2 separate regions of the Homo sapiens genome follow, and region 2 is linked to region 1. The links come from fine-mapping of genetic effects on gene expression. A gene starts in region 1. The other region holds a variant in brackets. All regions are shown on one strand. Distances are from middle to middle. Region 1 holds the start of RXRA (retinoid X receptor alpha). Region 2 overlaps RXRA (retinoid X receptor alpha).

Region 1 (4,367 bases):
CCACGTCCAGGGGCCAGACACTGAGCTGAGCATTCTTGTTCCAGAGGAATCGTCTGGGAGAGCCTAGCTCTGTGTGTGTGGATGTGTGTGTGCACATGTGTGAGTGCAAAGCTTTAACAGGGAAAGGCAGCCCCAGCCCACTCCACACTGCACTCGGTCACAGACAGCGCAGCATTCCCTCCTGCCTCACACTCAGCAGTACCACGAGCTGGGGGTGCTAATCCCAAATCCACCACCTTGTATCCTGGGGGCTCAGCCTCTCCCAGCCAGTTTTCTCATCTGCAAAATGGGCATGAGCGCCCACCCCTGGAGGCTGAGCCCTGGAGCTCATTCAAGGCCTCGAGCCCACCACTCCATCATGACAGAGGCAGGGAGTAAGCGTTAGGTCTGACAAACCTGGAACCCACCGCCTGCCCCGGTCACGGGGCAGCACACCTGCCTGTGAGTAGCAGAGGTACTCAGACTCTCACCCTCACATCCAGGAGGGGCTAGGTCCATGCTGGCTCCCCTTGATGCCCCATCTCACTAAACATCCCTGCAGCTACATTGGCTTCTGAGCACCTCCTGGGGTGGCCAAGCTGCACCCCAGGCTGCAGGGAGGGTGGGCAGGAGGGGCTACGGATGGCGGGGGCTTCATTCATAATCAGCTGTTTCGATTTCCATTCAGCACAAATCCTTCACCCGGCCTGACAGCCTGGCTGCCGTCCCACCACCAAATTAATATCCTTCCCGGAGCTAATTTATAAAGTCTCCCCCTTCTCACTAGCTTCCAAACCCTTGGGAGGGCAATGGGTGGGGGCCCCAGCCATGCCCTCTCCCCCTTCTCGGTAGGTCTGGGCCTGGAGTTGGCGGGCAGTCTGGGATAGGAAGCTACCGGGCGGGATGGCAGGAGGAGGAGGGAAACTGACCCTACGCGCCTCTGCGCTGTCCTGCTCACAAATGGAGAGCCAGCCTGGGAGAACACCCGGGGGTGCCAGAGTGAGGGGCCCCATTTCTGGAATGGGGCCTTCCCAGGTCTGACGTTCTGTTCATACAGCCCCGGGGGACCCTGCCCACCCGGGCGTGGGCTGCTTTGGGGATAACAGGGTCCCAGTCTGTTTCCTGGGCGGACACACACCCAAGGGCCAGCGGCCTGCTAGAAGCCGCAGCCCGACGGGCGGGCGGCGCAGAGGCCGCTCGGGGCCCAGCGCGCCGTCCCGGTCCCCAGGCCAGGGAGGCCGGAGCCGCGGAGCGCAGAAGTTGCTCCTCCCGCTCCGGCCGGGTTCCTGTGCGGCGCGGCTGCAGCTGGGCGCCGGGGCGCAGGCGGCCGCCGGTGAGCGGGAGACCCCTCCTCGTCCCGGGCGAACCTGCCACCCGCCCCCCGGCCCCGCCGCCCGCCCGCTGCCCAGCCCCGCCCCGGCCCCGCGAAAAGTTGCCCCGGGTCGACCCTCCCCGGGCCCGGCGCCCGAACTCACGCGAAGGTCGGCGAGGGGTCCGAGCGGGGCCCGGGCCGGCGACCCCCCGCGCGCGCCGCCAACGCGCCCCCGGCCCCCTCCCGCCCGCCGGCCCCCGGCCCCCGGCCCCGTCCCCGCCCGGCCCGGCGAGCACTCACCGAGCGGCAGGAAATGTTTGGTGTCCATGTCTGCGACTAACTCATGCCCGGCCGGCGGCGCAGGCAGCGGGCGGCGGGCGCGGCGGCCCCCGGCGCGGCCGGCCCGGGCCCGGGCGGCGGGGAGCCGGCGGCTGCGGTGGCGGCGGCGGCGCGCGGAGGCCGCGGCGCGGCGAGTTGTTGCAAAAGTCGCCCAACAATGTAAACTACTTGTGTCTGCGCGCCGCCGCCGCGCGCGCCCGGCCCGCGCCCCCGCCGCCGCGCGCCCGCGCCCCGCTCCGACCGCGGCGCTGCGGCGCCGGCGGGGGGGTGGCGGGGGGCCCGCGACGGGCGCTGACTCGGCGCAGCGCCGCCGCCACCGCTCGGCCCGCGCCCCGCCCGCCCAGCCCCGCCCGGAGCGCGCCCCCCTCCGCCGCCGCCGCCCCGCGATCGCCGCCCGCCCGGCCGCCGAGTTGAGAGCGCCGTGCAAACTTGCGAGTTCGCCTCCGCCAGGGGTTCCCGGGAGCCGCGAGGAGGCGGCGTGGGAGGGGGCGGGGCGCAGAGGGAGCGGGGCGGGGGCGGGGGCGGGAGCAGAACTCCCTCCCCGGGCCCGCCACACACTCGCGCACACACACACTTGCGCGCAAGGGCCCGGAGGAGGCGGAGAGCCGGGCCGGGAGCCCAGCGGCCGGGCCATTGTCTGCGCGGCCACACAAAGCGGCCGGGCGGTGGCCGCGAGGGGACCCCGGCCCGGGCCAGGCAAGCGCAGAGCCGGGCGGGATGGCCGCGGCACCCATACCTCGCACCCCGCCGCGGCGGACACGTGGGGAAACTGAGGCCCGGGAGTGGCGATGTGCCCCAACGGCAGAGGACAAGCTCCTCGTCCGGGGAAGGTTTCGTCTTCCGGACGCTACCCCCGGTCCACCCCACACTTTCACGCCCTACCCCCACGGAGAGACCCACGAGCCCACCGGGAACGAGGAGGGGTGCGCGCTTCGCCTCCTCATCGACCCGCACTCCTGGGACCCCTCTTCAAAGGCACCAGGCTGGGCAGGCGCTGCCCGGAGTTGGACACAGACTTTGTGGCCGGTGGCTATTTTTATACCCTGGGTAGTTCTCTGCCTGACTTTTAAATTCACGATTTGTTTGAAAACGAAAGGAAGCACTCCTGCCCCGGGACAGCTCGGGCCGCCTCCGCCGCGCGCCGCCCGCCGCCCGCCGTCTCGGGCGGCTGGAATTCGGATTTGGGTGTGAGCTACCTGCGCGCCGCCAAGCCCAGCCTTCCTGAGCAGGCGCCGAGGCGCCCCGCCGCGCCCTCCCTCCGCACCCCCACCGCGAGCTTGCTGACCACCTAGACCTAAGGGCCCGGGCTGCGAGGCACAGGGACTGACCATTCACGCAGGCTGCGCGTGGTGGCCCGGGTCAGGGGACGCTAATGGGGAGGGAGGTGAGGAGGTGATGACCGCGTGTGGACAGCCATGACACGGCCCAAAGATAACAGCCCGAGACCAGAGAGGTGTCCTGCTGCCTGGGTGCCCCTCAAGTCGGGCCACCCGGAGCTGGGTTCCACGAGGGCTCCGGTGGCCTGTTCCGGTGGGAGGTCTTGGTTCCACTTGGGACAGAAGTGCCCTGGTTGGGCAGCCCACCCCCAGCACAGCCAGAGCCCAAGGCAGCCCTCTCCCCCTCCCCCTCTTCACTGACCCCTGGGCCCCTACCAAAGGCCACCCCGTCCCCCTATTCACACACCCTGTCCAACAGGCAGCCTGCCCCACTCCCTCCGGGATGAGGGCCACTGTTGACACCTGGTCCTCACCCACTGTGGTTACAGCCACAACAGACCCACTTCCCCACTGCACATGGCATGCCGGCCCAACCCACTGCCCTTCTAAAACTGAGTTCCTCCTGCCAGGGAGGGGGGCGGCAAACAAAGGATAGGACTGAGAAAGAGCCCCCGTAAGCACCAACATACACTGCAAAAGTGCCATGTGCCCGCCGCGTTCCAGGCCTGTCTCTGTGACTGCTTGGGCCCCTCCTGACTGTACTCAGGTTGGGGGGTTGGGGGGGAGTCCCAGATAGACAAGGCCTGGGCCAGATTGCAGGTCCACCTCCTACCAACCGTGTGGCCTAGCTGGGTCACTTCCCTCCTTGTATCTCAGTTTTCTCATCTGTAAAGTGGGAACAACCACTCCCTCCTCACTGAGTCACTGAGATGACTAAGTGAGATAATATGGAGAGTCTGCGCTCGGGAGGACGAGCTCGGTGTGACAGTTATTGTGATGATGATGATGATGAAATGACGCTGAATTAGGCAGGCCGTTCGCCTATGCTCAGTGCAGGGAGAGCAAGGCTCTATCCAGCCAAAGGGCTCAGGCAGCTTTTGGGATCACTGGTTCTTGAGTCAGGTTTTGGAGCAGGGAGGTTCCATCAGGCAGTGGCCGCCCAGGCAGCAGGGCCGGCTGAGCAGCGGCCTGCAGAGAGAAGGAGCAGCAGGCCGCGGACGGCAGGTCAGGACACGCCAGGCAATGGTGGGAAGGCTGGGCTGAAGTGTCTGAGGTCACCTCCCAATAGTGGGCGGTGTGGCATGCTGGACTCTCCACCCCACCCCCATCTCACTCCTTGTCCCTGAAAACTCAAGACTCAGGAGCTGTTGGTGCCTGGAGTCGGGGAGGCACATGCAGACAGATTTCCATGTGGGTTCCTCCTGGGAAGGCTGAAGGTTCCAGAAGGGCCCTCTGTTCCTAAGAAACACCGGAAGGCGTCATCCCCTGCTCTAGAGACCACGTGGAGAGCGCACGGAGTC
Region 2 (4,311 bases), 51 kb before region 1:
GGGTCCTGCTGTGCAGAGGAGGTGTGGTGGGGAGGAGCTATAAGGCTGGAGGAGCCGGGTGGCCCCACAGGCTGGGCTGCATCCCAGGAGCTCAGCTGGCAGGCAAGTGACCCAGCAGGAGCTGCATTTGCTGACTGACAAATGGGTGGCGGCTGAGGTCCACCCCCACCCTCAAGGAGGGAAGGCAAGAGACGTGTGTTCCCACCCGAGGACAGCAGCAGGACCTCTCTTCCGGGCACAGGATGAAGCAGGACAATCTGACTTGAGGAAACAAAACAAAGTCACAGCCAAGGATGGTCTGGCTCCTGCCCTCCAGGCTCCAGAGGCCGCTCCTGAAGCTGCCGGGACTCCTGCAGGCACCCCTACAAGGCTGGGGTGCTTCACAGCCTGGGGTCTGCGGGGGCAGCCTCCCTCGGCAAACCCCAACTCCAGGCTGCCTTTGGGAGCAACCGGACGGCACGCGCTGCCCAGGGTCAGAGCTCCCTACCCACCCCTCCTGTGACTCTGAGCGGCCGACCCAGCCTAATGGCCACAGTCCTGAGGCTGGCAGGGGCAGGGAGGGCCACCACTTCGGTACCTTCCCCAGGTACTGCTCCTTGGGGACAGGTGACAGGGGCCACAGCCTATTCCCTCGGCACCCAGGACCCTGCCTCTAAGCAAATAAACCAACAAGCATCCACATTTGCCTCCAGGCCACAGGACCCTTCGGGACCAGGCCAGCTCTGTTCACCAGCTGCGTTCTGGAGGCAGATGGCCACAGCCCTCTTGGGTGGCAAGGGTTAAACCACACAGTGGTAAGGACCCCGCACACAGGCGCTGGCCGGCACACACGCCTTCAGGTGGCGGCAGCAAGGCAGCAACACCAGCACCGGCCTGGCTCCCCAGCGCTGACCCAGCAGACAGAGAACTCGCCTCTCTGCCTAGGATGACAGCATCCAGCCAGGGACTCATCTCCCAGGAAGCAGCCGGGGTGGCCTGGCACTTCCAGAGCTCTGTGCCTTGCCTGTGCCCTCTGCCCCGGCCCTGCCCAGAACCCTGGGTGGCTGCCAGCTTCCTGCCGAGCTAGCTCCTCGTCGCCAGCCACAGTCATCGTGAAACCTGCTCGCCACCCAGGGCACCACTGTGCCCCCATGGCCACCACTCCAGGAGGACAGCACAGGGGCCAGGCCTGGGTGTGGCCGACGCTGAGCTGCACATAACCTGCCCCAGCTCGGCCCTTCCGCACACACCTGGATTCTCACAGCCCCTCCAAGGGGGGCAGAGCAGGAGGGTCCCCACTCAGCACCCCATCAGCTCACGCAACGTCCCCCATACTGGTTCTGATGGAGGTGGGTGTGGAGGGGGGCAGCGAGATGGCTTCCTGGGGACAGAAGCTGGTCTGCAGAGCACGAGGGTATGACAGATCAAAACGCACACACAGACGGTGGAAATCGGGCAGCAGCTGGAAGTCAGAATAAAAATGTTACATCTCTGCAAGAGTAGAGTGCTCCTCCCTGACCCCCACATCCAAACTGACCTCTGTTTTCATAAAGGCCAACAAGAGACAGAAGTGGTCCCGGAGAGGGAAGTTGGGAAAACGGATATCTCCGAGGGGTCGCGGGAGCTGGGGGTGTGGGTGTGCTGGCTGCAGGGCACACACACACGGAGACTTCACCCAGCTGTGCAGGAAGGACACGCATGCCTTCCCGAGCGGTGATGCCAGCACACGCAGGGCTGAGTTCTAAGGAGGGCCCAGCCCCACAACTGTGCTGGACACTGGGGACCCCTCCCATGCTCTGGGCCTCCCATGCTCCAGGCCTCCCATGCTCTGGGCCACCTGCCCTTGGTCAGGCAGTGATGGGGACAACGCCATCGCCTTCCATGTGGGACAGCATGTGGCCCAGGGAGGGCAGCCAGCTCGCCATCAAGGACCCAACACCCCTGGGGCTGGCGGAGATCAGTAACCCCAACACTGCCAGAGGCCCCCAGAAATGAAAGCGGAGCACAGACAGGGTGAGAATGGGTACTGTCAGTGCCCAGCACGGATGCAGCGAGCTTGGGGCTCCGTCCCCAAAGGCTGAGCAAGACTGGCCAGGTCCCCATTCCCAGTGCCAGCCCCTCAC[A/G]GGGTCGGCCCCTAGGCCAGCAGTCACAGGGCTGCCAGGAAAACCCGGCTGACGGGTCAAGGACAGTGGGCGTGGCACAGGGCCAGGGCACACAATCGCACACTCAGCCAGTGAACACGTGGCCCAGAGGTCAGCCCAGCGACTGCCCGCCACAGGTAAGGAAATGCTTCCTGCACCCCCTCAGAGACTCGACGCCCAAGGTGCCCTCACCATGCCCCTTCCCTCCCTCCTGAGACCCTGCAGCCTGCAGGCCCAGCCAGATCCCTAGGGCTGCGCCCCTGGCTGGTCTCAGCTGCAAGGAGCCAGGAGGTCCCTCTCTACCACGCTTTCATTTCCATGCCCAGTGCCCAGCTTCCCCCAGGAGCACAGCCAGGGAGGGTACTGCCCACGCGCTGAGCACCCGAGATGCACCAGCCAGCACAGGTCTCACTGGTTCTCTGAGAGCTCCCTAAGCATCACCTTCTATAGACAGAGAACGCGGCAAGGCTCCAACACACAAAGGTCGCCCTGGCCGAGGCCACGCAGCTGGCCAGGCTGTCAAGTCATGAGCCCAGGGCTGCCTGAGCAGAGTGTGGCGGGCGGCAGGGGAGGAGAGAGAAGAAACGGTAGGACAGGGCAGCAGTGGGGGCTGTGGTTGGGCCACTGGAGGGACCTCTGCCCCCGCGAAGGAATGGAGACAGCATAGACGGGAGCAGTGTGGATGGGGCACACAGGCACACGCACAGATCAGAGCACGAGGCACACACACATGCATAAACACGCACCCTGCCAGGCACCGAAGCTCCTAGACCCCCACAACCCTGGGCACTGCGAGGTGCGACAGCTGGCATGGGCAGGCCCCGCGGCTGAGGGTGCCCCTCTGGGCCTCCACAAGAAGGCCTGGCTGCGCCTGCAGAGGGGCCGCCTTCTTCCGCCCCAACCAGCGGGGCCGGTGGGAGGGTGCCTTCCTTCCTAAGGAAGATCCCAACTTTGATAGGAAACACAAATCTGAATTCCATTTTTGTTTTAAAAAATTAATAAATAGCAAGGCTTGTCATGATCTGCCCGCATGCGGAGAAGGGAGGCCAGCAGGCTGCGAGCCTGGCGGGGTGGGGTGGGGGGGAAGCAGAGAGAGAGAGGGAGGGAGGGAGGGAGGGCGGCCGGCAGCTTGTTTTCTCTACGTGGCCTCTGCCATCGAGTCGCAGGGCACGTGGTGTTTGTTGTTTGTTTGGGGGAGTGTTTTACAGAATCTCAGCATCCCCCAGCCACTAACACAAACTCTCACACCGAGAATGCTCTCCTGCCAGAAGCCAGCCCTCCTACTCCGCACCAGGGAGTGGCTGCTTCCAAATCGCCCTCACCCCAGCCCTCAGGCTTCTCCTCCAGCCCTGACAACCCACACAGGGCCCAGAGCTGCCGGCCCCGGGCCCACCTGCTGGCCACCCCAGGCTGCCCGCTGGCCCTGGCCCGTGTTCCCAGCTGTAAAACTAGACGGCCAACCCAGCGTCACTCCCAGCTCTCCCGCCAGGCCGATCATCCACACACAGTCTCCGGGCTGACCCTCAGATGAACCAGGGTTTATTCCGGGCCAGGACCTGCCTGGAATCCCCTGCCCACTGCCTGGAGCAACTGTTCACAGTGTCCACAGCCCACCCGGGAGCCCTCGGCTGCCCTCCATGAAGAGCATCCCCCCTCAGACCCCAAAAGCCACTGCAATTCTGGAGGCAGGAAGGTTTCCTGGGTGCCCAGCCAGCCACAGCCATCGGAACCAGGCCAGGAAGACAGCAGGCAGCTCCCACCTCCCCACAGTGACACGCGCTCTGGCCCGGCCTGCTCTCCACCCCCAGCCTTGGGTCATTCCAGGAACATGTCAGGCTCTCTCGCCTCTAGCCTTGAACATGCTGTTCCCTGGGCCTGAAACTCCTCCACCTGTTTCCTGGCTCACTCCAGCCTGGCTCCGTTTTATATAACACCTCCTCCAGGAAGCCTTCCCAGAGTCTCTCAGTTGGGGTAGGGGTCTCATCTCCTACACACCCCCTCAAGAGCACTCCCTGCAGTGCAGGGCACAGTCAGCCCCTCACCCTGGGTGCCAAGGCTGAGGGCTACCGAGGATAGAGCCATGGCCACTCCATTGTGACACCCTGGGCCCTGGCCAGTGCCTGGCACATAGCAGGTGCCAAGTACAGACCTACAGGATAGCGGGACCAGGTCGGCGCCAGCTGCAGGAGTC

The links. PIP is the estimated chance that this variant, and not a neighbour inherited with it, causes the effect.
Region 2: its variant is the best candidate, but not a certain one, in a credible set for the expression of RXRA in skeletal muscle (GTEx, PIP 0.64).

Annotation. Positions count from the first base shown.
Region 1 is chr9:134,323,884-134,328,250 of GRCh38, reverse strand. RXRA (retinoid X receptor alpha) reads right to left here and starts at 1,796. Exons shown (of 10, transcript NM_002957.6): 1 at 1,592-1,796. The coding sequence starts at 1,619. RefSeq lists an enhancer at 1-510 and silencers at 1,121-1,260, 1,999-2,048, 2,119-2,298.
Region 2 is chr9:134,374,861-134,379,171 of GRCh38, reverse strand. All of the region lies in intron 1 of RXRA (retinoid X receptor alpha), which reads right to left. Among named protein-coding and RNA genes, the nearest start is that of MIR4669, 2.4 kb to the left of the region's middle. RefSeq lists enhancers at 1-679, 680-1,471. The variant A/G (reference allele first, on the strand shown) is at 2,103.